4 separate regions of the Homo sapiens genome follow, and all the other regions are reported to be linked to region 1. Evidence: microRNA targets listed by miRTarBase, many of them from high-throughput screens and not tested one by one. Region 1 holds a microRNA gene; each other region holds the end of a gene's coding sequence.

What was found. The annotated mature microRNA hsa-miR-8070 reads AUGUGAUUGACGGCUGACUCCA and lies in region 1 at 3,394-3,415, shown strand. An mRNA with a match to its seed (bases 2 to 7 or 8) in the 3' UTR can be bound and repressed. Matches are read on the target gene's strand: a 7mer-m8 pairs with bases 2 to 8, a 7mer-A1 pairs with bases 2 to 7 and ends in A, and an 8mer does both.
Region 2: the mRNA of HCCS is a reported target of hsa-miR-8070. Seed matches in the 3' UTR shown: 7mer-m8 at 510-516.
Region 3: miRTarBase lists INTS2 as a target of hsa-miR-8070. Seed matches in the 3' UTR shown: 7mer-m8 at 2,008-2,014 and 7mer-m8 at 2,865-2,871.
Region 4: the mRNA of KRABD3 is a reported target of hsa-miR-8070. The part of its 3' UTR that is shown has no 7-base or 8-base seed match.

What each region holds. Positions count from the first base shown.
Region 1 is chr11:11,779,484-11,786,605 of GRCh38, reverse strand. It overlaps MIR8070 (microRNA 8070), which reads left to right and starts at 3,384; the gene lies at 3,384-3,471.
Region 2 is chrX:11,121,411-11,128,532 of GRCh38, forward strand. HCCS (holocytochrome c synthase) reads left to right here. Exons shown (of 7, transcript NM_005333.5): 7 at 202-1,676. The coding sequence ends at 400. Among named protein-coding and RNA genes, the nearest start is that of HCCS, 14 kb to the left of the region's middle.
Region 3 is chr17:61,861,309-61,868,430 of GRCh38, reverse strand. INTS2 (integrator complex subunit 2) reads left to right here. Exons shown (of 25, transcript NM_001351695.2): 24 at 422-598; 25 at 705-3,064. The coding sequence ends at 874. BRIP1 (BRCA1 interacting DNA helicase 1) reads left to right here and starts at 4,903. Exons shown (of 20, transcript NM_032043.3): 1 at 4,903-5,147; 2 at 6,862-6,984. The coding sequence starts at 6,892.
Region 4 is chr7:149,733,163-149,740,284 of GRCh38, reverse strand. It overlaps KRABD3 (KRAB domain containing 3), which reads right to left. Exons shown (of 17, transcript NM_001290187.2): 17 at 5,710-7,079. The coding sequence ends at 6,238. It overlaps LOC124901771 (a long non-coding RNA gene), which reads left to right. Exons shown (of 2, transcript XR_007060585.1): 2 at 273-411. Among named protein-coding and RNA genes, the nearest start is that of KRABD3, 22 kb to the right of the region's middle. RefSeq lists an enhancer at 4,308-5,224.

The DNA.
Region 1 (7,122 bases):
GCTCTGAACCTCCACTTTCTTAGTAGATAACCCGAAGATATGCTGTGGGTGCTAAAAAGTCATAGTTATATCCTTGACATGTGTTAGCTGCCTAATGAATGGTAACAATTTTCATTAGTCATTGTTGTGGGTTGAATTGCATCACCTGACAATTCGTATGTTGAAGTCCTCATCCCCAGTGCCCTACTTAGAGAGTGACTTTATTTGGAGATAGGATCTTTATAGAGGTAATCAAGTTAAAATGAGGTCATTCTGGTGGAGCCTAATCCAATATGACTGGTGTTTTTATAAAAAGGAGAAATTTGGACACAGAGACATGCGTGAAGAGAAGACAATGTGGAGAGACATAGGGAGAAGGTGCCATCCGTGCCAAGGACACAGGCCTAGAACAGATCCTTCTGCACAGCCCTGAAAAGGAACTCACCTACTGATACCCTAATGTTAGACTTTCAGCCTCCAAACCATGGACAATGAATTTCTGTTGTTTAAACCAGCAGTCCCCAACCTCTTTGGCACCACGGGCTGGTTTTATGAAAGATAATTTTTTCACCAGGGTTGGGGGGTTGCAGGGGAATGGTTTCAAGATGATTCAAGCACATTACATTTATTATGCACTTTATTTCTATTATTATCACGTTTAATATATAATGATATAATTATACAACTCACCATAAGGTAGAATCAGTGGGAGCCCTGAGCTTGTTTTCCTGCAACTAGGTGGTCCCATCTGAGGGTGATAGGAGACAGGGACAGATCATCAGGCATTAGATTCTTTTTTTTTTGGGAGACAGAGTCTTACTCTGTCGCTGAGGCTGGAGTACAGTGGCGTGATCTTGGCTCACCGCAACCTCCGCCTCCCGGGTTCAAGAGATTCTCCTGCTTCAGCCTCCCGAGTAGCTGGGATTACAGGCATGCACCACCACGCCCAGCTAAATTTTGTATTTTCAGTAGAGATGGGGTTTCACCATGTTGGCCAGGATGGTCTCGATTTCCTGACCTCGTGATCCCCCTGCCTCTGCCCCCCAAAGTGCTGAGATTATAGGTGTGAGCCACCATACCCGGCCTAGATTCTTATAAGGAGCATGTAACTTAGAGTGGTACTGGTCTGTTGCCTGGGGGTTGGGGACCCCTGGTTTAAACCACTCAGTTTTTGGACTTTGTTTCAGCAGCCCTAGAAAACTAATATAGTTATTTTCATGCCATTCTGTTGCCACCTTCCCCTGTTCTGGATGTGCCTTGTAACACCTACTAAGTAACTTGTAACACCTAGCAAGTCTGTGGTCATGGCTCTATGTTCACTGCCTCAACTGTTCCAGAGTGGTCAGCAGGCCCTTGGGAAGTCATAAAAATAGTATTTATTGACGTTTTCAGTACTTTATACACATTTCATTAGATAAACTCTCACAACAACTCTCTGAGAAAGATACTATTATTGTCCCCATTTTATACCTGAGAAAATTGAGGCACAGATATGTTTAGTAACTTATCTCACATCTATGAAGTGGTACAGCCAGGAGGTGAATAGGTCCAGACACTTTGACCCCAGAGTCCTTGACCTTCGTTCTCACAGTGAGCTCTTAGTAGCCCCCATGCAGACAAGCTTAGAGATGACTGGAGTTGAAGGAATAGTAAGTCTGGATGGCCACTGCTCATCAGTAGGACTCTTGGCAGCAGGATGAAGCTGAAATCTCCATGCCTCTGCAGTGGCCTCTGAGGATCTACCACATGGCATCACTGGAAAATGCTGGACAAAATGCCCTGCCCTGCCATCTGCAGATCACTGAGCCCGCCAAGGTATCTCACTGGTCACAGCTCAGAACTGTTGCTCTCATTTTAGGTTCTGTCCCTTTTATCTTTCAGGCTTTCCCAAAGCTGCCCCTGATGAGTTTTTTGGTTTTCTGCCCACGGAACTCATGTAGAGAACCACTATGGAGGTGCAGAATGCCATAACAATGAACAGTGTGGGAGGCCGCAGTGGCACAGTGGCTCACGCCTGTAATCCCAGCACTTTGGGAGGCCAAGGCAGGTGGATCACCTGAGGTCAAGAGATCGAGACCATCCTGGCCAACACGGTGAAACCTAGTTTCTACTAAAAATACAAAAATTAGCCAGGCATGGTGGTGGGTGCCTGTAGTCCTAGCTACTCAGGAGGCTGAGGCAGGAGAATCACTTGAACCCAGGAGGCGGAGGTTGCAGTGAGCCGAGATTGCACCACTGCACTTCAGCCTGGTGACAGAGCGAGACTCCATCTCAAAAAAAAAAAAAAAAAAAAAGAGTGTAAGCCCTGATGTCAAATGTCTGGATTTGGATCCTGGCTCTGTTCCTTCCAGTCTGTGTGAACTCAGGTGACTCATTTAACTTCAGATCATCACCTGTAAAATGGTGATAACAATGGTACTTATAGGGTTGTTCTGGTGGGGATTTAAACGAACACATGTATGCCTCTTGGACCAAACTTGAAGAGTACTTAATACATGTTGACTTTTATTATACAATCAGTGGGATGGGATAGAGTGCTATAGTGGTAACTGTCTAGAAGTGCATTTATTCCAGAAAGAGGACTGAACTGTATCCGGTTTATAGTAATGAATTCATAAAATTTCAATAACTTGCCATCCATATTACAAAAGAAACACAGAACTTGATACGTATGTAGTTATTTTAGGACATTTACAGTTTGGTAGAAAATGTGCATGGTGTACAGTGGCATATCATAAAGATTTGTTGAATGAATGAGTGAAATGTGAGATAAAGCCAGCCATGAGACATCCTGGTTCCTGGCACTGCACGAGGTGGGAAGCACAGGCTGGCAGAGAGATGCTTGGGCAGCTATGATAAAAGCGGGACTGCTCAGTTGTCCAAATCCCCAATTCTGGAGAATGAGGTAGTTCTGACCCAGTCCAGAACAGAAGGTAGAGGAGTGAGAGAGTGGCATGAATCTCAAGAATCTCACCATCATTGTCAGTGGGGGTGCTGGCACCAAGGCTGGTGCTGAGCTGGAGGGAGCAAAGAGAAGAGGGCGGAGCCCTGGTCAGTTGGGCTCCAGTCCAAGTGGGGAACTAAAGGGAAAGCCAGGGACCTAGAGCCTGTCAGATAGACAGAAAGACTGTTCTATGGAAATTAGGGATGACCAATGGCTCTGTGCTCATTTAGGGATCCCTGCATCACTCAAGGGATCTCTCGAGATAGTCATGGGGCAGCAGAAGCAGAAACACTGCAAACTCTGATCACCATGTGAGCCACGCCTGACCCCATGTGGGTGAAACCTGATCCTACAGTGGTTCCCATGTGACTGAGGCCTGATTCCATGTGAGTGAAGCCTGATCATCATGTGAGTGAAGCCTGATCATCATGTGAGTGAAGCCTGATTCCATGTGAGTGAAACTTGATCCCATGTGATTGACGGCTGACTCCATGTGAGTGAAGCCTGATCATCATGTGAGTGAAGCCTGATCATCATGTGAGTGAAGCCTGATTCCATGTGAGTGAAACCTGATCCCATGTGATTGACGGCTGACTCCATGTGAGTGAAGCCTGATCATCATGTGAATGAAGGCTGATCCCATGTGAATGAAGGCTGATCCCACATGATGAAGCCTGATTACCATGTGAATGAAGACTGGTTCCATGTGGGTGAAGCCTGGTTCCATGTGAGTGAAGCCTGATCCCATATGAGTGAAGCCTGATTACCATGTGAATGAAGCCTGATTCCATGTGTGTGAAGCCTGGTTCCATGTGGGTGAAGCCTGATCCCATGTGAGTGAAGCCTGCTTCTCTGTGAATGAGACCTTATCACCATGTAAGCTGAGCCTGCCTCCTGTGCACTGAGGGCAGGTCCTCACACCTGGCAGCTGGGAGAGCATGCCAAGGACTGGGCTCCAGCTTGCATATTGCAAGACAAAGGGACCACACCCAAGCCCAGTGAGAACAGGCAGTTCCATTCTGAATAGACAGAAGGGACATGCAGCTTGCGTTGGCAACCTTCTGCCTCCTGCATTTCTTAAAGTGGAGTCGATTAATGGCTTTCCAGAAGCAAGGGAAAGATTTCTACTGTGCTCATCATGAAGAAGTGTAAATTGTTACAATCTTTTCAGAGGGTGATTTTGCAGAATTATCAGTACATAAAAGATGGTAATTGCAATGTTGTTTGTGGCAGTGAAAAAGTGGAAATGGTCTAAATGCCATCAACAGAGGACTGGTTAAAAAACTGGAAGTACCTTTGTACTATGGAATAATATGCATTAACTAAAGGTGAGGAAGTAAATACGTATGCATAGACATGGAGAGGTGACCACATTATCACATTATATTAAATGAAAAAAGCAGGTTTCAGAAGAATGCATCAGTATCAGCTCATATGTATAAAAAAGAGTTAAATGCATGTAATGTAAATGTCTGAGTAATGCATGGAACAGACCCAAAAGGATGCAAACCAAATAAATGGTAGTTAATTCTAGAAAGAGGGATTGATGGGAGATGGGAGAGAGAGGAAAGGAAACAGGGAATTTCACTTTCTATGTAATAGGTTCCTGTACTATTTGCTTGTCATGTTTTGTGTTATAATAAGCATGTACTACACCTTGCTTTTAAAAGATGTAAAAAAGAATCTCAAAATAAAACTTTGTTATGTTAGTATTCGGGTTTTATGTTTTCTTGGTTGGCTTCAGGTTTAGAGCAAGTTGCTTGTTTAGATAAAATAATATTGTGTGGCTTTTTAAAGACACCAAGAGCCTGTGGAGAGGCTGGCAGTGAGGTTGAGATTTATCAGGAGGTCAGAGGGGTGGTCCTACTTCTCCCTAGCAGGGGGGGTTTGGGCAAGAGAGAACTTCCCAGGTGTGTCACTCACTGGGGTGTGAAGTCCATTCATTGGCCACCTTGAAGGGCATCCAGTGGGCACTCATTGGGCACTAGGAATTATATTCAGCACAGTGTCAGACCTCATGCTGGGCTTAGCTTGGAGCACTCTGTGGGGAATTGAGCTGAGCATGGCATAGAACTCTTGGCCAGATTGTATGTTTGGGATGGCTGAGGTCATCTCACTGGTCATTGCCCAGGCAGCACTACCTTATAACTCCCTGGGCTGAGGGTGGTCACTGCATAGAGCACTTGAGTGGATAATGCATTAGGCACTGGATGGAATCCTATGTGCACCACTGCACAGGACACCTTGTAGAATTCTTACTGGATCCTACACAGAATGTGACTTTCAGCATCATAGTTGACACCATGCAAAACTCTGAACTGGTCTGTGGGAAGCACCCTTTCTGGGCACTACCATTACCCCAATAATGGGCATGAGCGGGCAGCTGAAGAGGCTAGTTCTTGTATCCCAGACCCACTCAGTAGACACCTTCCAGGAGCAGAGCCTATTCTATGGAGGAAACTGCGCTACAGGCCGACCAGGGCAGCCACGTCCCAGGCACTGGGGAAGGGAGGGAAAGCAGTAGAGCCCACTCACATATGCTGCCTCCTTCTTGCTGCCAGAAAGGCTGCAGGGCTTTGAAAAGATTCGTTTGCACAGTGAAACTCTGAGTAAATAGAAGCCACCGTCAATGGTGCGTGTACATCTGAGAGGAGCGTGTGGAGTGAAGGCAAACATTTCCCAAAGAGCTTGGAAGGAAAGTGATGCTCTGAGGTAGGTCTGTGCCAGGCTTGCTGCAGCTTGGATGGCAGACCCTTGACTGGGGGTGTGCCTTGGCCTGCGGAAGTTCCCATCCACATGAGTTGCTTTAGTGCCTATTACATCTCACATAAGAGGCAGTAAAGACAATCAAATATCTCAAGTGGCTCCTGAGACCCTTCCTGAGAGTTGCTGCACCCTCAATGCCAAGATCAAAGCCAGCCCACAGGAGATAAGATGCAGGATGGCCGGTTGCGCACCCTCATTAGTAAAGAGATGATTCCACGTATTTCAGGTTTACAGAGATTTAGAGTTGCCCCTCAGTAACCAAGAAATAACCACATTTCGTAGATTGAGGAATCACTTGGGAATGCTCAAGCAGAATACTGTGTCTGCTGAATTTAGGAGACCCACAGGAGAGGTGGCGTTCACCCCTCCTAACACCAAAATGCAACCAGAGGCATTTTGGACCAGCTAGGGCAGCTCTTTCTGTGATTAAGGAAGGCAGGTGTCTGTGCCTGGGAATTCTCTCACTCTAAACTAAGGAAAGTTACTCACACTTTTACCCAAATTCTTCATCTGAGCTGAGAAGAAAATGTTGGCTCTTCGTGCTGCTCCACTTGGCTCAGTCTCCTCATTGTTCCCCAAATATGATGAGTGTTCCATTTCCCTGGTTTTGTCTCCTCAAACTCTCCTTTCTAATAGCTTTTAAAAATACAGGTAAAATTTGCATAACATAAAATTAACAGTTAACCATTTAAAGTGTACAATTCAGTGGCATTTAGTAATTCAGTAGTTGTGCAACCATCATCTCTGTCTAGTTCCAAGTCATTTTTATCACCCTCAAAGGAAACTGTACCCATTAAGCAGTCATTTGCCTTTCACCGCTTTCCCAGGTCCCTGGCAAACACTGGTCTGCTTTCTGTCTCTATGGATTTACCTACTCTGGATATTTCATATAAATAGAATCATACAATACATGACGTTTTGTGCCTGGCTTCTTCTACTTAGCATAATGTTTTTGAGGTTCATCCACTTTGTCTTAGTAGCTTTTTATGGACACTGTGGTATAGAAAGAATGTAGTCTTCGGAGTCAGAGAGACCTGGGTTTTCATTCTGGCTCAGCCATTTACTAGCTGTGTGTTCTGGGAAAGTTATTTACCCTTTCTGAGCTTCAGTTCTCATTCATGAAATGAGAAGAATAATCCCTACCTCATATATAGTTGTGAGGATTAACAGATAATATACGTAAAATCACCTGATGTTGTATCTGGCACATAGTAGGCACTCTCTAAATGTTTGAGGCATAAGGATGAAGTTAAATATGAGAGCACGATGTTCATAGTATGTTAATTCCTTGTCTTTGCCCCTTATTTATGCATATTTTTCTGTGAACGCTTTCCTGCCTAGTGGCAGCTTTTTTCTCTGAATTCCTTCACCCTCCCTTCCCCTTATCTGAATAATTTACCTTACACTGAACATTCACTGCCTTGTTCCTTTGT
Region 2 (7,122 bases), not on the chromosome of region 1:
TCATCTGATACGGACTTATCACAGTTCTTCAGTGCCATCTTCCCTTAGTGCTGTTCACTGTGTAATTCTTCAAGTCTGACTTCCCCAGTTAGGTGTTTGGGAGCAGGTGTTTGCATGTGCTTCTTGAGTTTTCTCATGGCTTAAACCGGGACTGAATGTATTGCAAGCATTTTAACACTCAGTGGCATGTTTTTATTCCAGGTATGAGTTGCCTTTTGATAGGCACGATTGGATCATAAACCGTTGCGGGACAGAAGTTAGATATGTGATTGATTATTATGATGGTGGTGAAGTCAACAAGGACTACCAGTTCACCATCCTGGACGTCCGTCCTGCCTTAGATTCACTTTCGGCAGTATGGGACAGAATGAAAGTCGCTTGGTGGCGTTGGACCTCGTAAAGCACTGTTTCAGATGGAAAAATATAAACTATTTTTTTCTGAGCGATACATTAAACTATTTTCCCCAGATTGAATTGCACTCATGATGTAATGGGAACTTCAAGTGGGTAATCACACTTTTTCCTTCACTTAACGAAGGATACTATGCACTGTTCACTTTTGACTTGTGTTGTACCTTGCAGTTTATAGCAGATCATTTTGTTTTCTTCCTACTTAGCTTAAGTGGGAAGCAGTCTCTCAGTTTTTCCTTTACCTGCAGTATTGTCTGTATATTTCATCTCGAAAAGCCTGAACAACCTCTGAAAAAGAGCTTTTAAAAAGTGATGAAAGTTGCTTTTTTTTCTTACTATTTTCTCAGGAATACTCCAGAGATGTAAAGCCTGAGAGTCCATGGTGATGCTCAAGAGCTTTCATCTGGCCAAATATTTTAACTAAAGCTGTTCATTATAAATAAGAGGTGATTATACCTTTTTTAAAAAAAGTTACCATTATTTCTAAAGCCCCTATGGTATGATTGTGACCTTTAACAAAATGCAAAGGTATACACTGGAAAGGTACTCAGCAAAATTCTCTCCAAATTCTGATTTATATGAATTTCTTGGACTGGATAGAGTACTTTCAACTATACCTTCCTTTGGAACATACCTTTTAAAAAATGTTCCCTTTAAATCCTGTTATTCTAATATGTAACTCTGCTCCCAACAAACAGGTCTCCTCATTGTCCTTGGCATTTGACAAGTTATCCCAACTTCGAATCTCATTTCTTCCTTTGCTGGCAGCCTCCACCCTTCCCCACATCAGTCGGCCTAATCCAAACCTTGAAAGCCTGGCTTAAGTCCCAGTATCAGTGATGGTCCCCCTCTAAAACATGATTTTATATTTGGCTGAGTGTTAAAATTCACAAGATGAGCATTTTTTTCCCAGATGGAGAACGCTTCAACTCAGTCTAGATTTTTTTTGTTTGTTTTAAGGAAGCTCTAAGTTTGCCATTGAAACTTTTTGTACCAGTAATCCATAAACTGGTTGTTCTATTTATAGCAGCATGTTACAAATGACTGCTTTTTTTTTTTAACTGTCTATACTATTAAATCCTTTAATTTATCCTGAATGCTGTAGTGTTAAATTAGTGGATGAAATTGGCAGTCTGTGGGTGATTAATTTGGTATGGATTTGTCAGTTTTGTGTGGAGTTTAAGAAATAGAACAGCCTTAAACTCTACATTTCAAAATACTTGTATATTTTAAAATAAAGCTGATTAGTTCACAGGTTTTGAAAATTTTTTGGAATAATTTTACACTTAACGATTGTTTCTTCAGACGTATTATCTTTATAAAACCAATGCTTTATGATAGAATGATTTATAACCCAGCACACATATGTTTATTGCAGCACTGTTCACAATAGCAAAGACTTGGAACCAACCCAAATGCCCATCAATGATAGACTAGATAAAGAAAATGTGGCACATATATACTACAGAATACTATGCAGCCACAAAAAAGGATGAGTTCATGTCCTTTGCAGGGACATGGATGAAGCTGGAAACTATAATTCTCAGCAAACTATCACAAGAACAGAAAACCAAACACCGCATGTTCTCAAGAGTGGGGGTTGAACAATGAGAATACATGGACACAGGGAAGGGAACATCACTGGGGCCCGTCTCGGGGCCGGGGGGGGGTGGGGGGGGTTGGGGGGGGTGGGGAGGAGGCTAGTGGAGGGATAGCATTAGGAGAAATACCTAATATAGATGACGGGTTGATGGCTGCAGCAAACCAGCATGGCATGTGTATACCTATGTAACAAAAGTGCACGTTCTGCATATGTACCCCAGAACTTAAAGTATAATAATTTTTTTTTAAAAAAAACAATGCTATAGTCTCCCTACTCCAAGCAGCCACTTTTTCATCTACTAATCTTTTTTTTTTTTTTGAAATGGGAGTCACGCTCTGTCACCCAGACTGAAGTTCAGTGGCACAATCTCAGCTCACTGCAACCTCCACCTCCCGAGTTCAAGCGATTCTCCTGCCTCAGCCTCCCGAGTAGCTGGGATTACAGGTGCATGCCACCACGCCTGGCTAATTTTTGTATTTTTAGTAGAGACGGGGCTTCACCATGTTGGTCAGGCTGGTCTTGAACGCCTGACCTCATGATCCACCCGCCTTGACCTCCCAAAGTGCTGGGATTACAGGCGTGAGCCACCGCACCCAGCCCTAATCACATATTTTTAAACTGTAGAGGAAAATAATTACTGTTGGCATTTTTTGGGGGGGTCTTAAGTGCTATCGAATGAGTGTGGGATAAGACATTCTTATGAAAGACAAAACACTAACTGGAAACAAAAAATATGCCAAAGGCAGGATTCACCTGTTTTATAGGACTGTGGTAAACAAGCTTTAAACTCAAGCAAACTTGATGACAAGATCAAGTTTTATACATCGTTTTACTACTTCCAGAAAAAACCATGGCTTCCTGGATTGTCAGAGCTGCTTTGTGTCTAGATTATGCTTGATTGGGTCCAGGGGTCAATACTGATAGGAGTTTTCGTGTACAGCTTGAAACTCATTTAGGATATTCTCTGGAGTTTTAAACTAAGTCTTGTGTCTGTGGAAATAGCACTATTCAGAATCAGAACAAATTACTGAACATCAGGCTAAGTATTGGCAGACAAGCTGGGGCTACAAATGGATTGCATATTAACATTTAGTATTCCTGTCAGTCACTGGCTAACAAAATGTTTATGTCCCCTTTGTGCATCGTATAAGGAATACAAAATTGCAAAAGGTATAACCCTGATATGGTTTGGCTGTGGCCCCACCCAAATCTCACCTTGAATTTTAATAATCCCCACGTGTCAAGGGCAGGGCAAGGTGGAGATAATTAAATCATGGGGGCAGTTTCCCCTATACTGTTCTCCTGGTAGTGAATAAGTCTCAGGAGATCTGATGGTTCTTTAAATGGGAGTTCCCCGCACAACTTCTTTTGCCTGCTGCCACGTAAGACATCCCTTTGCTCTTCCTTCGCCTTTCACCATGATTGTGAGGCCTCCCCAGCCATGTGGAACTGTGAGTCCATTAAGCTTCTTTCCTTTATAAATTACCCAGTCTTGGGCATGTCCTTATTAGCAGCATGGGAACAGACTAATACCCCTACTTGCAGGGAACTCAACAATCTTATGGACAGTCTATAAATGAAATGGTGGTAAATGCTAGAACTCCAATTTAAGGAACACATTGTGGTAACACACAGTGTGAGAATTCACGTAAGTATTTTTGAATATTTAGAGATAGTTACCAATTTCTTTACTGAGTCATCATTATGGTTTATCTTCTCCCAGAGATTGCTTCTTAGGGAAAATGAAGCAATGCACATTTCCTGTCTCACCTTTGCAGTGACTGTCAGAATTGTATGACCCGTCATTTGTGTCACCATAGGCTTGAGGCTGTGTGTGTGATGATTACAAATGTGTGTCCTGGAGGCAGAGTCCTTGCCCTGCCCTTTAGTCGCTGTGTGATCTTAATGTCTCTGGGCCTCAGCTTTCTCGGCTATGAAATGAGAGTAATAGAACCAACTTATCAGAGTTGTTTTGCAGGTACTTTGAGGTGATGCCTAAAAGCGCTGGGAACAGAGTCTGTGGGTGGAAATGTTCAGCAAATATTAGCTATCACCATTGATCAACAACAGCAAGGAGAGAAATCAAAGTGCTGAGATATAATCTACTTCTCTCATCCTCTGGCCTTATTCCCCGCCCCACTCCGCCACCAGGAGAATCAGTTTAGAGGGGTAACAGCAGGCTCTAATCCCCATTTTGATCAATTTTAAGGATTACCAGGTGTTTGGGTGCTTGCTCTAAGAAAGCTCATGTTATTTAAAATCATCAAATGGAAAAAGAACAGGTTACAGCCTTTGATCTTTCAAAAAATATCAGGGTAACAAATTAGGTACTTGATATGCAAGTCCCACTTGACAAAAAGAAATATTATATTAAGACAGATACCCAAGCTGGAGTGCACTGGCATGATCTCGGCTCAATGCAACCTCTACCTCCTGGGTTCAAGTGATTCTTGTGCCTCAGCCTCCTGAGAAGCTGGGATTACAGGTGCCTACCACCACACTCAGCGAATTTTTTTGTATTTTTAGTAGAGATGGGGTTTCACCATGTTGGTCAGGCTGGTCTTGAACTTCTGACCTCAAGTGATCCACCCACCTCGGCCTCCCAAAGTGCTGCGATTCTTGTGCTTCTTAATCTAAAATATAGCTCACTGTAATGTCCTTTGGGTCACAAGGTTATCCCCCTCTGTGAAAATATATTACATATCCGGATTCAAAACATATTACAAGGTTGTTTACTGCAAAGAAAAAGATCAAAAATTATTTCAAAAGCCATGTATATTCCTTGTAACTTAAGGTAACATTTAAAAAATTATATAATTTGGGGGGTATATAGTATATCAAAATGAAGCATATGAATTATGCCTTGCGCCACTCATGACAAATAATATCACGTTTTCATTTATAAGTGGGAGCTAAATGATAAGAACACAGAGGGGAACAGCACACACTGGGGCCTATTGGAGGGTGGAGGGTGGGAGGAGGGAGTGGCTTAGGAAAAACAGCTAATGGGTACTAGGCTTCATACCTGGGTGACAAAATAATCTGTACAACAAACCCCCATGACACAAGTTTACCTATGTAACAAGTGTGCACATGTGCCTCTGAACTTTAAAAAGAAAAACATTTACTGCTGCAGTAGAGATTGTCACTGTACCTTCAGTAAAATTTCATGCCATTGGTGTAAGTGGTAAAGTGTCTATTTCATGCTTGTGCACTCTCTAGTTTGGAAGAAAAAGCTGACAACACTTTCTGCAAATGATTCAACCGGAGGTTTATACATCACATTGCAAGTATTCTAATGTTTTTGTGGAATCATACCAGATGCAGGAGCAAACATAGTTCCTAAGACTGGTTTAGGGAATGAGGCATGTACATATGGGTGCTATCTTGTATTTATAATTAGCTTTTCATTGATGCTTTTACACACCAAAGGTCATATGTGATAGGGGCACAGAAATAATACATCTTGAGTGTTGTAACAGAGGAATTGTGAGACAAGTCTTCACAATCATAGACGAGTGAAGTCCTAAAGAACAATGAAAAGTTACTATTTTGAAAGTTACTATTTTGGAGCTCTGTGCAGAATCATCATTTAAACACTTTGCTATTCCTTCTACATTTGGGATAACAATGTGACTAATTCCCGTGCCCCTTCAATGGTTTGCTATAGAATATTATCAGGATGCTTTTGGCTTCTAGTAAGTGAATCCCTGCTTGAACTCACAGCCAGAAGTGCAGAGGTTGGGTGTACACTTGGTTGATCCTGCTTCTCTGGACTCCCTTTCCTTCCATGTTCAATTTTAACTTCATCCATGTAGGGCTGGTTCCTTTCATCAGCGTCAATGCTTCCTAGTTGCTTTGAGATCCTTGTTTATGGTCAGTAGATATGAGGTGGGGTGGGACCCGGCCATCTACCACAACCATGGGAAATAAGGTTTCTCTTCAGTCTAATTGGGCCAATTCAGCACTGGGCCTGTGTCCTACCACCCCTCCCATTTTATGTTCCTGTGCGTGCTTCATGCTTAGATTAGCTCAGACAAATCATCAGGAGGACATGTAGTGACCACAAGAGGATTCCTTCACTGCTGATTTAAAATCCCATTCTTAGACATCATTTCATTAAGGTCTTTTTCCTTCATCTGAACCTTTTTAAAAATTTTTTTCTGAGACAGAGCCTCACTGTAGTGCCCAGTCTGGAGTGCAGTGGTGCGATCTTGACTCACTGCAGCCTCTACCTCCCAGGTTCAAGTGATCTTCCCATCTCAGCCTACTTAGTAGCTGGGACCACAGGCACATGCCACCACGCCCAGCTAATTTTTGTATTTTTTGTAGAGACAGCATTTCACCATGTTGCCCAGGCTGGTCTTGAACTCCTGAACTCAAGTGATCTGCCTGCCTCAGCTTCCCAAAGTGCTGAGATTATAGGCTTAGGCCACCAAGCCCAGCCTGAGCCCTTTTCTTATGCCAGGGTTTTAAATCTGGAGGTGGTAGCTAACGTAATGGCATAAAACAAGATTTGAGAGCTTTGTTTCTGCACTGATTCCCTGTGTTAAGCTGGGAGATTTGGGACAAGCCACCTTAGGCCTGTAAGTCTCAATTTCCTGAAATTATCTTAAAGGCTCCTTTCATACCAAAATGTTTGTGGCCTCATATTACAATGGGCTGAATTATGTCATCTTTCAGGTTGAGAATCTTTAAGTTAAGGGAAAACAATGTGGTTTGAAACCCTATTTCAAACTAGTTTTTATATAAACTACATCAGTAGACACACTCTTAAAAGACCTACACTTAAGCGAATTCCAAGTTAACCAGTGCTTTCCTTTCCCTCTATAAAATGTGCTGGCTTGGAAACAATTCAAACATTCACCAATTAGTAAATGGATAAATACATGTTGGTATATCCATGCAATGGAATATTATTCACCCATAAAAATAAATGAAGTACTGATAAATGCTACAATATGGATGAACCCTAAAAACATTGTGCTCAAAGAGGCCAGAAACAAAAGGCCACTTTCGTATGATTCCATTTATTTGAAACCCTCAGAATAGGCAAATTTATAGGGGCAGAAAGCAGATTCGTGGTTGTCAGGGCTGGTGGAGGAGGA
Region 3 (7,122 bases), not on the chromosome of region 1:
CGTATTTATATCCTGTTATAATTATTTGTAGTGATTAAGAGTTTACACTGCCTGAATTCAATCTCAGCCCCACCACTAACTGGCTTGTGATCTTTAACAAGTTTCTTAACCTCTCTAACCTTTTTTTAAGAGTTTTCTCATATATAAAATGAGTGTCATAATAGTACTTTGGTCATTCATAAGATTGTAGGAATTCAATGAAATAATGCATGTAATGTACTTATTGCAAAACTTGTGCATAATAATTTGTATCTTGGATAAAGACTGAGACTACTAGATTGTGAGCTTTCTGAAGACGGGTTGGCTGTGTTTAGAGAACTTCATATCTCCAGCACAGAGCATAGTTCCCCTTAGTATGTTGTGTAAGCTGTGTTGAATTTATATTTGTAAACTAAAATATTGTTTCATTTTTTTCCAACAGTTTTAACACAGGCTAAGCGGTATGCTTTTTTTATGCCAACTCTGCCAAGTTTGGTCTCTTTTTGTCGAGCATTTCCTCCATTGTATGAGGATATTATGTCTTTGCTGATCCAAATAGGGCAAGTTTGTGCCTCTGATGTTGCCACTCAGACAAGAGACATTGATCCAATTATTACACGTAAGTGGTAACTTATTTTCAAGGGTTATCTTAATATCTCAAACAAAAAGGCCAAATTCCTTTCCAAATTTCTTGGCCTTAATGTTTTTTTTCCCTTATGTTGTAGGTCTTCAACAAATAAAGGAGAAACCAAGTGGATGGTCTCAAATCTGTAAAGATTCATCTTATAAAAATGGATCCAGGGACACTGGAAGCATGGATCCTGATGTACAGCTCTGTCACTGTATTGAAAGAACAGTAATTGAAATAATAAATATGAGTGTTAGTGGAATTTAAAACAAAATTTAAAACAACAAAAAGTTGTTTGCTGCATATACCCAACATGAATCTGCATATTAGTAACAACTCTAAACTGAATGGGAACAGTAAAGTATTGTCTTGGAATCACTAAAACAATTCAATTCAACATGAGTATAGTTTAGAACTTTATGAGAATTATGCTTGCTTGTTTCTGATTGGCACATCTTTGGATCTACTTTGCTGATATGTTTCTATTGTAGCAGCTGAGCTTTTTTTTTTTCCACTGGGAACACATGTAAGAAACTCATTATTGGAAAGGGAATTTGGCCTTGTATTTAGCTTTTGAAGTGAAGACTGCCATGCCTTTAATTTCTTATAAAAATGAGTCTGTGGGTAGCCCTAGTGTTTATTTTAACTGTGAGCTTGTAACAGAATGTGACAAAGATGCAAAGATGGGAGAGGAAAAAAGGGTAAAGGGAAAGGAGAATTAAGGAAATAATAGGAGTTAAAAACACAAGTAGAAATCTCAAAGATTTGCAGTGCAAGTAATAGTAATGCAAGTTGGAATTCTAGTTCTCAAGAAAGAGTATTGAGAAGACTTTTAAAAAGGCAAGTAGCTTTTGTAAATGATTTCTGTGGAAATACAGATGAGGATTTAAAGATTTCACATATTTGCTTCAATTTTTATTAATATATGAAGCCATATGTTTAAAGAGATACTTGAATAATTTGGAATTTTAAGATACTGGTGTAAAAGTGTTTACAGAAACATCTTTGTTCAAAGAAGAACCTGAGAGATCTCATTTAGTTTTATGTTTTAAATTTATTTTTATAATGCTTTATTAACTTACCTAATGCTCAGAGGGGGGAAATATGTATCAAATTAAATGAAGGTAGAGCAATAAAACCCACTGGATTAAAGAGCTCTTGGTTTGTCATCAGGATTATAATTCATATCTTACTTTGAGAAGATCTTTGAGTAAGAAAATGCAGTGTTTGAACCTGAGGAAAAGTTAAAGTGTAGAAAATATTGTCTTGCCGAAGGATTTTGCAGTCCTCTGTCAGTAACTTCCATTGATTAGGCAGACATATTCAGGTAAACCCTAATCATTAAAAAAAAATTATCAATGTAGAAAGTAATTCCCTTTTTTCTCTCTGAGATATACCTCAATCACACACTTCCCCACCCCCACTTGAAACAGACCTCTTCACTTGTGTTTTTTTTTTTTTTTTCCTGAGGTGGAGTCTTCCCCTGTTGCCCAGGCTGGAGTGCAGTGGGATGATCTTGGCTCACTGCAACTTCTGCCACCTGGGTTCAAGGGATTCTCGTGCCTCAACCTCCTGAGTAGCTGGGACTGCAGGCACGCGCCACCTGTATTTTTGTATTTTTAGTAAAGACGGGGGTTTGCCATGTTGCCCAGACTGGTTTTGAACTCCTGGCCTCAGGTGATCTGCCCACCTTGGCCTCCCAAAGTGCTGGGATTACAGGTGTGAGCCACCGCACCTGGCCAGACCGCTTCACTTGTAAAAGAAATTAGGCTAATAAGAAGGTGTAGTTTTTGAGAAATGAAATTTAACTTTAGCCTTTTCACTAGTAAATAGTCACATCTCATTTTCTTCCTTTGTAAAATGGGGTTACTACTGGCCCTACCTCATATTCTATGAGAATGAGTTTGTAGCTGTTTCAAATCATGAAGTGCATAGTATCACATGTGATAGAATATTTATAACTTTTTATTAGATGCTTAATGTTCAATTAAGTAATTTTGATGTGAAAAATAAAAGTAATAAAAGTATCTTAAAAATAGCATAAGAATTTTCATATTTTTAAACAAGGCAGTTTTGTAGTCCCTTAAGATTAAATACAACTGCTCCTTTTTTTTTTAAACTGAGGCCTTGCGATATTTTGTGTGAATAGATATGCCCTAGGAGTTCAGAAAAAGTTAAAAGTATGTTTTCTAATTAAATGCAGTGCACATTCCTGGATCAATATTCAAAGACTGGTCATAACCTGCTGTGTTAAAATAATCACATATGCTCTTTTTCATCAGATTTGTTGATGATGTAAATAAAATGTGTAAATATATTAGTAAATGTTAATATTCATGTATTTTAAGTTAAGGTTATAAAATTTGTCACAATGTGTTTTTTTATTCAAGTGAAAACAGATGTGTGCAGCTATTTTGAATATTGGTTTATAAACATTCATATTCTTTATCAAACGAACCTGTAGTTTTTGTGTTTCATTCCACTAGAGTTAACCTGAAGGGAACGGTTCAAGGGACTGTATTCGAGGTCTGTATGGCTCCAGGGCCTACGTGTATCCCTTTCTGTTATGCCACATACATTAAATGGCAATGCAAGGTGAGAGCCAGTTGAAACTCTTAGTAATTTAGGAGAGGAAAATGAGAGTAGTTATACTAGAGCAGTTACTCAAAAGAGTTGATTTTTTTTTTTTTTGAGACGGAGTCTCGCTCTGTCTCCCAGGCTGGAGTGCAGTGGCGCCATCTCGGCTCACTGCAAGCTCCGCCTCCTGGGTTCACGCCATTCTCCTGCCTCAGTCTCCCGAGTAGCTGGGACTACAGGCGCCCGCCACCACGCCCGGCTAATTTTTTGTATTTTTAGTAGAGACGGGGTTTCACCGTGTTAGCCAGGATGGTCTTGGTCTCCTGACCTGGTGATCCGCCTGCCTCGGCCTCCCAAAGTGCTGGGATTACAGGCGTGAGCCACTGCGCCCGGCCAAGAGTTGATGTTTTAAAAATTATAAAAGAGAAATGACAATTTGAAGGTATTTTTAAGGATTTATTTTTAAACATTATCCTTCCTTTCATTGTCTTAACAGTAAATTACTTCATCTTTGCTCATTCATATGTATTTTCACATTACTGAATCCCTAACACCCAGTTTGGGGTTTGCTTTGCCTTTTTTCACTTAACCTTATATGGGATTTTTTCTTGCAAGTTTAATTTTTATAAGTTTATTGGCTTCATAATGTATTGAATTCATCTGTCATAACCACCTCCATATTACTAGACTGGGAAGTTCATAATTTTTTTCAGTATTACCAATAGATATTATTGTCAATTGCGGTATCACATTTTCTTTCGTTTAGATTACGTCTTTAGGATAAATATCTGGAGCTCAGATTACTAGGTCAAAGGGTAGAGTTTATTTTTATGACTACAAGTTTTGTCATTTTTGGTAAGATATATCACAATTGACAATGAGGCAAACAAATCAACTAGCCCCCTCCTGCTCTTTCTTCCCAGCAAACTCCTTCCCCAAACTAGTTACTTGAATTTGAGAAACAGTATGAGGTTTTGCCTTTTGGAGACATTATTATTTGAGCCAAGTTTAGGTTATACAGATTTTTTAAAAAAATAACATGATTTGGCAAGATCATGATGAACCTCCTTTTCTTTGAGTAAATTAAAGTACTACTGGCAAATAATAAACTGGTCTTAGGAGGGATGGAAGGCGGATAAGCCTTAATGGAAGTAGAAGTGATCTGATACTGGAGACCCTGAGAGCTTGTCTCTGGCTTATTTTAGCATCCGGGAAAGCCTTGAATATTATGAAAGATAGATTGTAGCCCGATGTCACAGAGCCTTCTTACTTAAGTTTGGCTCAGCAGTCTGGCAATTCCCGCCTGAGTCTTCGCTATCCTGGCTACTGCAAAGCTGGGTAATTTAAATTGAGTGGCACTGATAAATGCTCAAAGAACTTGGCAAAGCTTAAAGATACTTCCTTTCCGCTGGTCTACGGACGTGAAGAATGAGACTTCCAGTTTCCAAGGAATTTGCTGCATAGACTCTATCGCCGGTTTCAAAAGTCAAACTGAGACGACTTTCTACTTTAAACAAACACTAGGGATTTGCTGGAGTGGCGACAACCTTCCGCCGCGTACCTTGAGCCCTTGTTTTTTTTTTTTTTTTTCGGAGACTTCCATTGGATGCCGAAGTTCTCGCCCCCTCACCTCGCACCGGGACTGGTTGATTCCTGGCCTTGGCGGGTGATTGGTCGAGCTCGCTGGGCTATTGGGCGCTGGGAGTCGAGGGGGCGGGAGGCGGGAATTCGTCTCGGGTTGTGTGGTTGAGGGGTCTGGTGGGTCGAGGAAAGGTAACGGCGGCCCCAGTCCTGCACACAAGGCCGGGGAAGTAGCAGCACCCCCAGGAAGAGGGAGGAGGAAGGGCTCGTGCCCTTTCTTCTCTTCCAGGGCTCCGCTTTATTTGCTCTCAGAAGTCGGTTTCCTTTCCTTTTCTTCAGTGAATCGGAGCTCAGAGCGTTGCTTCGGTTTCCCTCCAGACAGGCAAGTCGGAGGGAAGTCCACGGAAAGGGCTTGAGTTCTTCTGCACAGCCTGCGGGCCCATGGGTGGTGACTGGATCACCAGGGTCTCGGGGATCTCAACTGGCTGGGGGAGGAGGGAGATACGGGGCAGAAAACCTGAGGAGGGAGCCTATCCTTACCTCCTTTGAGCGCAGGCCTGTTCTTAGCCCGGGCGCTGCGTTAATTCTTGGCGGGAGGCAGAGGGGTGTGTTTATCCTTTATGCAATGTTTGGGGGAAGCTACCCCATTTTGACACTATTGTTGCCACAGCCGGGGTACAGGACGGGCTGATTTCTAGATTATATCTGAGTAACTAGGCCAGCGTTGAGTTGTTGATTCATATTAAGAGGTTAGATTCCACCATACCTCATTCTCAGAGCTTTACAGATAGAATCGCAAAATGTTAGAGCTGGAAAATACCCTAGAATAATGGTTCTTCTTTTGGAGCACACAAGCAGTGGTGAATGTTATTATTGGCTTCATAATCTATTGAATTGCTATTTTAACCATCTCTTCGTCCCCAGGTTGAATTTACAATTTTTTCCCACGACTGCAAATAATTCCTTATTTAATAACAGTGCATGTAATTTCCCCCGCTATTTTGATTTCCTTGAGATATATTTACGGGAAGAGAAATCTATGGACTTTTTCTTCAGAAAAATGCAATCATGTACAGAAACTTATGCTTGCAATTTCAAGAGGTCATTGTCTCTGAATTACATCCGTGGATCCTAGGTTAAGAAAAGTGGTTTAGAAGAGGTGAGGATTAAAGTGATCCTCATCTGTATCAGATCCTGGGTTAGGTACATTCTGCCCTGGCTAATTTTCATAAAAACCCTGTCAGGTAAGTAGTAGTATTTCAATTCCATATATGGAGAAACAAGCTCTGAGAAGTTAAGTGATTCACACAGTGGAATTCAAACTTAGGATTGCCTTACTCCAAAGCCCATCCTGTTTCTATAATACTCTACTGATCTTCAAATAACATTTTTGAGTGCCTACTATGTGCCAAGGCATTCTCTTTCTTATAACAGCCTTTAAATTAAATTAGGGGTTATCACAGGTAAGGATCTTAGACTAGAGAAGTAAAAAGATATGTCAAAGATAACATACCTGAGTCAAAGATAACATACCAGGCAGTATACCAAAACCTGGTATAGAACCTATGCTTCCTGACTTCTGGTCAACAGCTTTTTTCTTCTAACTGGAGGACTGCAGAAAGGGGTAACACAAAGGGGAAGAACTGGAGAAAGAGTGATGCTACGGAGTTGTAGAGAGAGAGGCCTCAGGAACTTATTTGTTTCTGTAGGTTGATTACATCTGATCTAACTGTTACAAGAGCTCATGTTTAATCTGGTATGTACTTTATCATATTTGCACATTATTTCACTTAATCATTACCACAATCCTATGGGGTACATGCAGTCACTGTGGCTTAGAGAAGGTAACTAACTTTCCCGAAGTCACACAACTAATACCTGGCAGAGTGAAGGATACAAATCTAGATTTGTTAGACTCTAAGACATGCTCTTGACCGCTGTGATTTATAAGACTAGGAAATTATTTTGTTTCCATTTGTTTTGTTTATACTTTTATTAATTCCAGTTTCTGTTTCCAGATTTCTCCCTTAGTTTTGGTTCTCTGGTTTTCTTTGTAAGGCGTGTCTCAATATTTGACATTTTCATTTCTGTTGTAGTTAGGAATCTGAAATAAACAGGAAAGCACTATGTCTTCAATGTGGTCTGAATATACAATTGGTGGGGTGAAGATTTACTTTCCTTATAAAGCTTACCCGTCACAGCTTGCTATGATGAATTCTGTAAGTATTTTTCAGCAGTTAAGTTTTTATTAAGATATAGATACTTATGACCCATAAAGTACATTGAGTATTTGACTGCATTCATATTCTCAGTAAATGGAGAATATTTTCTGGGTTCACTTGGAAGAATATCTAACC
Region 4 (7,122 bases), not on the chromosome of region 1:
AATACTTTCTAACTGTTGGCTGTGGGTATATGTAAATATAACTTAGTTTTGGTATACTGGTTTTTAACACTTCAATATGTCACCATTAAGCATATTAGCTATTGATATGGTTTGGCTGTGTCCCCACCCAAATCTCATCTTGAATTGTAGCTCCCATAATCCCCACATTATGGAAGGGACTCAGTTGGAGGTAACTGAATCATGGGGGTGGGTTTTTCCCTTGCTTTTCTCATGATAGTGAATAAGTCTCATGAGATCTGATGGTTTTACAGAGGGCAGTTCCCCTACAGTCTCTTGCCTGCCACCATGTAAGACATGCCTTTGTTCCTTCTTCACCTTCCGCCATGATTGTGAGGCCTCCTCAGCCACGTGGAACTGTGAGTCCATTAAACCTCTTTTCTTTATAAATTACTCAGTCTTGGGTCTGTCTTTATTAGCACCATGAAAATAGGCTAATACAGCTATCATCTTTTTTTTGGTATATAATCCTCATCAAATTAAGAAATTTCCTTTCTCATCCCAGTTCACTTGGAATATTGATGGGTGCTGGCTCTTATCAAGTGATCTTTCTGCAGCTATTGAGATGATCATGTGACTTTTCCCCTTTAATCTATTATTGTGGGTTACCACTGGTGATTTTCAAACGTTGAAACCATTCTTGATCGACAAGATGAAGCCAACTGGGTAATGATGTTTTACTCAGTAAAACATTTTGTGTATTGCTAGATTCTCTTTGGCTAATATTTTGTTGAGTATTTTTCCTATGTACATTTTTTGAGATTAGCCTGTAATTTTGTTCTCTTGTACTGTCCTCAAGTTTTGGAAATTTCAAGATTATGCCAGTCTCGTAAAACGAGTCAGAGAGTGTCCCATATTTTTCCATTCTCTGGAATAGTTTGTATATTATTGAAATAATTTCCTTTTTAAATGTGAGATAGAACTTACTAGTGAGGCCTTTTGGGCCTACAGTTTCTTTTCTTTTTTCTTTTTTAGATGGAGTTTTCTCTTGTTGCCCAGGCTGGAGTGCAGGGACGTGATCTTGGCTCACTGCAACCTCCACCTCCCGGGTTCAAGTGGTTATCCTGCCTCAGCCTCCCAGGTAGCTGGGATTACAGGCGTACGCCACCACACCTGGCTAATTTTTTGTATTTTTTAGTAGAGACAGGGTTTCATCATGTTGCCCAGGACGGTCTTGAACTTCTGACCTCAGGCCATCTGCCTGCCTTGGCCTCCCAAAGTGCTGGGATTACAGGCCTGAGCCACAGTACCTGGCCCTACAGTTTCTTTTGTAAGATGTTTGATCACTAATGCATTTTTTTTTCAATGGTATGGGACTATTCAGGTTTTGTTTTGTTTTGTTTTTGAGTCTAAGTTGCATTCTTATGGGAGTTATTTTCATTGAATTTTCAAACTTTTGGCAAAAAGTTGCTTATAATATCATCTTATTGTCTTTCTATAGCCTGCGGCATCTGCAGTAATGTCACCTTTTTCATTCTGAGACTGGTTATTTGTGCTTTCTTTTTTCATTGATGATTTCATCACAGGCTAGTAGTCAATGTTATTAGCTTTGTAAAGAAATGATTTTTGGCTTTGTTGATTATATCATTTATATGTATGCTATTTCAGTAATTTCTGCTCTTATATTTGTGTGCCCTTTTTAACTTTTCTTTGGATTTCCTTTGCTGTTCTGTTTCTCCTTGTGAATTCTGTCCTTCCTTTTCCACATACTCACTTATGTCTATACATTTCTAAGTACTGATATTGCTTTATGCTACACATTTTGATATGGTTCCTTTCCTTTCCTCTCCTCTCCTTCCTTCCTTGTTTTCTTTTTTTTGAGACGGGGTTTCACTCTGTCACCCAGGCTGGAGTGCAGTGGCACGATCTCGGCTCACTGCAACCTCCACCTCCTAGGCTCAAGTGATTCTCCCACCTCAGCCTCCTGTGTAGCTGTGACTAAAGGCACATGCCACCACACCTGGCTAATTTTTGTCTGTGTGTGTGTGTGTGTGTGTGTTTGTGTGTATGTGTATGTATGTGTATATATATATATATATATATATATATATATATTTTTTTTTTTTTTTTTTTTAAGTAGAGATGGGGTTTTACCATGTTGCCCGGGCTAGTCTCGAACTCCTGGACTCAAGTGATCTGCCTGCCTCAGCCTCCCAAAGTTTTGGGACAACAGCCGTGAGCCACCACACCTGGCCTGTGGTACTTCCTTCATGGTGGGAAACATTTTTAATTTCCATTATGATTTCTTCATTGACACATGGGTTATTTTAGCAGCATAATTCTCATTTTTGAATATATAAGAATTTCTGGTTATTATTTAATTCTAGCTTAAAAGGTAAAAGTATTGTCAGAGAACATACCCTATATAATTTCAATATTTTAAATTTATTTACACTTACTGTAGGGCTTAATATATGGTCAATTTTTGTAAATGTCCTGTGTATGCTTGAAGAGAATGTATATTAAGCAGTCCCATGGCACACAGTTTTTGTTTGCTTGTTTGAGATGGAGTTTCACTCTTTACACAGGCTGCAGTGCAGTTGCATGATCTCAGCTCACTGCAACCTCTGCCTCCCGGGTTCAAGCGATTCTCGTGTCTCAGCCTCCCAAGTAGCTGGGATTACAGGTGCATGCTACCATGCCCAGCTAATTTTTGTATTTTTTGTAGAGACAGAGTTTCACTGTGTTGGCCAGGCTGGTCTGGAACTCCTGGCCTCAAGTGATCCATCCGCCTCGGCCTCCCAAAGTGCTGGGATTACATGTGTGAGCCACCGCACCCGGCCCCATGGTGTACTGTCCTATACGGGCCTCAATCAGGCCAATTTTGTTAAGGAGTTTGTTCGAATCTTCTACATCCCTCCCAATTTGTTCCATCATTTTCAGAGAAAGATATGCTAAAACCTCCCAAATATGATTGTGAATTTGGGTGTTTCTCCTTTTAGTTCTTTACATTTTGAGGCCAGCAGAGGAAAAAATGGATTTTTTTTTTAACCCACAACAGTGTTAATACAAAATAAGGCAGGGAAGAGAAGCCCCCTCGGAAGAGGTGGGACAAACAAAAAGCACAAAGTAAGAAAGTCTGTTAAAGCCTCAATAAATCAGTCAGTCAATTACATTTAAATGGATTAAGGGCTCCCAGTTGACGAGCAAAATCTGTCAAGATGGTTTATGAGATAAAATCCATAGGTTGTGCATAGGAGCCACATCCAAAACACAAACCCGCACAAAGGTTAACAGCATGCCTGCTGCTCTTGACCAAGCACCTTCAGCGGGGAGCAGTGAATCGTGGTTCTTGCACCCCGCAGGCCAGCCTCCCTTCCATCAGGACCCCTGGGGGTGGCCAGAAAATAATAGGGGCACGAGGAGCCCATTCATTCATATTTTGAAGCGGAACCTTCACATGTTCCTGCCTGCTGGGGGACTCTGGCTGGCAGACTGGGAAGGTCGCACTCAGATCAGCCAGGACCCGTTCGGCTCACCCAGGATGGAATGAGCAGCCTGGAGCCTTCTCTGCCCCCAATTCCAAACCCTGGAGCTCCTTTGAGTTCAAAAAGGTCCTTCAGTTTCTCCCATCAAAGGGACCACATTTCCTCTTCCAAGCCACACTGCACAGTTCTTAAAGGAGATGGGCACAGTGCCAAAGACCTAAACTGCATCTAGATTTTCCACTAGATCAATTCTAGAAGGCGTTTCAGTGACTGTGGACAGGTCCTGGAGACCTAGACCTAGGGAACTGCTTCTGCAGGAGGAACGCAGCTGCAGACCATGGAACTTCTTACCACTTATTACTTAGAATCCACATTCTTAAAACAACTTTAAACTTATTATATGGTCCAACTGGGTCTGGACCACCTAGACCAGGCTCAGTCCTGAATACCCTGGTCTGTCCCAGCAGGCAAAGGCTGGGAGGGGGCATCTGTGCCCAGGGTGAGGATGCGCCGAGTGCTGGCGGCACTGGTGAGGGCTCGAGCTCTCTTCCTAGCTCTGCTGGTTGAAGGCTGCCTAACTGTGACAGTCACTTACAGCCACCATGCTCATTTGTTCAGTCGTGCCTGTCAACTAGGGTTTGCGTGGTGGCTGTTTCGGAAGCCAGCAAAGCAAAACCACCTTAATGTGCCACACAGAAGTGTAAGGTGACCCCCCCTCCCATTGAGTCGACAGCCCAGTGACCCCTGCTTAGAAGGGAAAGGAGAATGGGAGGACAGGCAGGCACGATGGGACTGCACCAGCTGCAGCAGGGGTGGGCAAGAGTCCTCTCCTCACAGCCAGAGTCAGGGCAGGGGCAGTTTCGCTTCTCAACCCCCCTCTGAAACTGTGTCCCACCCCTTGCCGTGGCTCTGAAACGTGCCCGGCACTGCTCCCTGCTTATTAGAAGGAGAGCTCCTCAGGCAGGAGCAACCTAGAAACTTTCCCTTCCTGATTCTGTGCAAGCACGGCTGTGAGCGAACAGCCTCCGTATTTCAACAAACATCCTACTTGTATGGTCTTAGGATCTGTTTCCAGACAGTCACCTCGGGGCTCACTCTAGTCCTGAAAGCATCTTCCCATCCCTTTGTGATGTTCAGTCTGTTGCGGGCATTCCCCTCTGACAGGTGTCCTTGCCCTGCTGCTTCTACAGGGTGGCAAAGAGCAAGGGCTTCAGCTCCCAAGCTCAGCTGCAGGGCACTTAGGCCCCGAGTGTGTCCCCAGTGACCCTGACTTGAGGGACACACTGGGCGCTGCAGCCACAAGGCACTGCTCCTGTAGTCATGGTGGGCAGCCAGCATTGCCCCAGGCCACAGTGCTGGTGTCCCAGGCTCCTCAGGGACCTGAGGACAGGGCCAAGTGTGCCAGTCCACACCAGGCTGGCCCTGCCAGTCCACACCAGGCTGGCCCTGCCAGTCAACAGGTGCACATACAGGTCCTGAAACCACCTCAGGTCAAATAAGGGATTTGGGGGCACACAGGTTGCATTCTGCCTCTTGGGAAGATGATGCAAGGGAATGACAGGCAGGCTGGTTCCAACGCATTGCCAAGCGCCAGCTGAGCGGGCTGGGAGCAGGCACATTCCGGTAACCAGGACAGAAGTGGGCTAGTGATACCTGGTCATGTCTTTTCCCAAGACAAAACCAGGAAGACTGGCCCAGCCCGTTTGGTGTGTTACAGGCTGAACTGTGCCCCTCCCCAAATGTGTATGGTGAAGGCCTAACCTCCAGTACCTCCAAATGTGACCTCACTTGGAGAGGGGGTGTTTAGAGAGGTAATCAGGTTAAAATGAAGTCATTAGGGTGGGTCATAACCCCATACAACTGCTGCCCTGATATGAAGGGGAAATCTGGAGACAGCTGTGTAGAAAACACCATCTGAACAGGAAGACAGCCATCTACAGGTCAAGGGGAGAGGTCCGGGACCGATCCTCCCTCCCAGCCCAAAGCAGGAACTGAACCTGACACCTGGATTGTAGACTTCTGGCCTCCAGGACAGAGACAATATGTGCTGCTGTTGAAGCTGCCCAGGCAGGGTTCCTCTGTGAGGCAGCCCCAGGGGACTCAGAGTGTGCCCCAGGAGTCCTGTGGGAATTGCCCCACCCTTCCTGGCACACTCCTGAATGTTCTCGAGGATGTCTGGGAGACGAGGCAGCGTGCTGGTGGCACAACCAGCCCCGCCCCAGCGTGGGCCCACATGGACCTCCCTTCTATAGGAGTCAGGGCCTTCCTTAGCAACTCACTTCTTTAATTTCAGAATCCACAGAGGTAAGTCCAGCTTAGACCAGGGGGCTGAGTTCTCTCAAATGAAATCTGTGCCAATATTTACTCCAGGAAGGCAAGAGCCCAGCCCTTCAAGGCTCCTGAGATCAGGAACGGCTGGTGGTTAGGAGGCGCTCTCCTGGCCGCTCTAGCTGTGTGGGGCACCCCCTGCATATGTGGGGCACACGTGGCCTATGCACACCACCCACCTACAAGCTTGGGCGGCTCCAGTGGGAAAGACAGGAGAGGGAAGCAACATTTGATTGAATCTGAGCCAAGAGGGCCAGAGGCTGAGGAAGGCACCCCCACAGCAGCCTCCTGAGCAAACAGCACCTGGGGGCTCTACCCAGTTGGGACAAAGGGCGAGGCTCCCAGCAACAGTAAGGGAGATGGCGTCCTCTGGGAGAGGGTGGCCTGGGGTGGGGTGACAGGGCTTCCACGCCACCACTGCACCCTCGGCAAGAACGAGCAGATGTGGAGAAGAGGAATGCCATCAATGCGCCCCCCATCTCGGGTCCCTGTGCTCCCCACCCCACAGTTCTTCCTGGAGGGCCCTCTGCACTCCTCCCAGCAGGCTGCTCGGCTCCTTGGGCCGCTCTGGGATCCCGTCTGGTGCCACTCCTGAGGTCGGCACGTCTGCATCTGCACTGGCTGCAGGAGGAGAGGCTCCCTGCAGGGGTAAGGCAGCAGGCACTAAAGGGGGAAGGGGGCTCTGGTGGCCCCCGGTATGTGCGAGGAGGGGGTGTGCAGGCGGCGCAGCATGGCAGCTGGGTGTAGAGGACAGCAGCTGCTGGGAAGAGCTGCAGTGGAGCCCAGGAGGTTCTGCCGGGGGAGCGTCTGGAGGCAGCGGACGTGCCCGGCGAGCGGTCCCTCTGGAGAGTCCTTGCAGGTCACCAGCCCTGCAGCTCTCTCCCTGGCCACGCAGGATCTTTGGTTTAGGCCTCGTGGGTCCCTTCTGCCTCCAGTAGGGCAGATGTCTGTGACCAGGGCCATGAGCCCAGCGAGGTCCCCGTGGGAGGGTCCACATCCAGGAAGCTTGGCCCATTGGCCCAGGGCCTTGGGGGCGCCTCCCCAGCCGATTCACCTGGGTCCTCATGGTGGCCACTTCCTGAGCCAGGCCTGCCAGCGCTGTGGCGAGCCGATCCAGCTTCTCCGCAAGGGCAGCACCGAGGCTGTGCAGCTCCTGCTGCAGGGGCTTCCCACAGTGGCATGGCGGCTGCAGGGAGGAGGCTGGCAACACAGGAGGCGCAGCTTCCGGAGGGGGCAGCTCCGGAGGGGGAGACTCACTGGGCAGCTCAGGCGGGCCCTGGGGGAGCAGCCTCTCATGGGTCTTGGCTAAAACCAGAGCAAGGACCGGTCAGAGTTCCTGGTTTGTAAG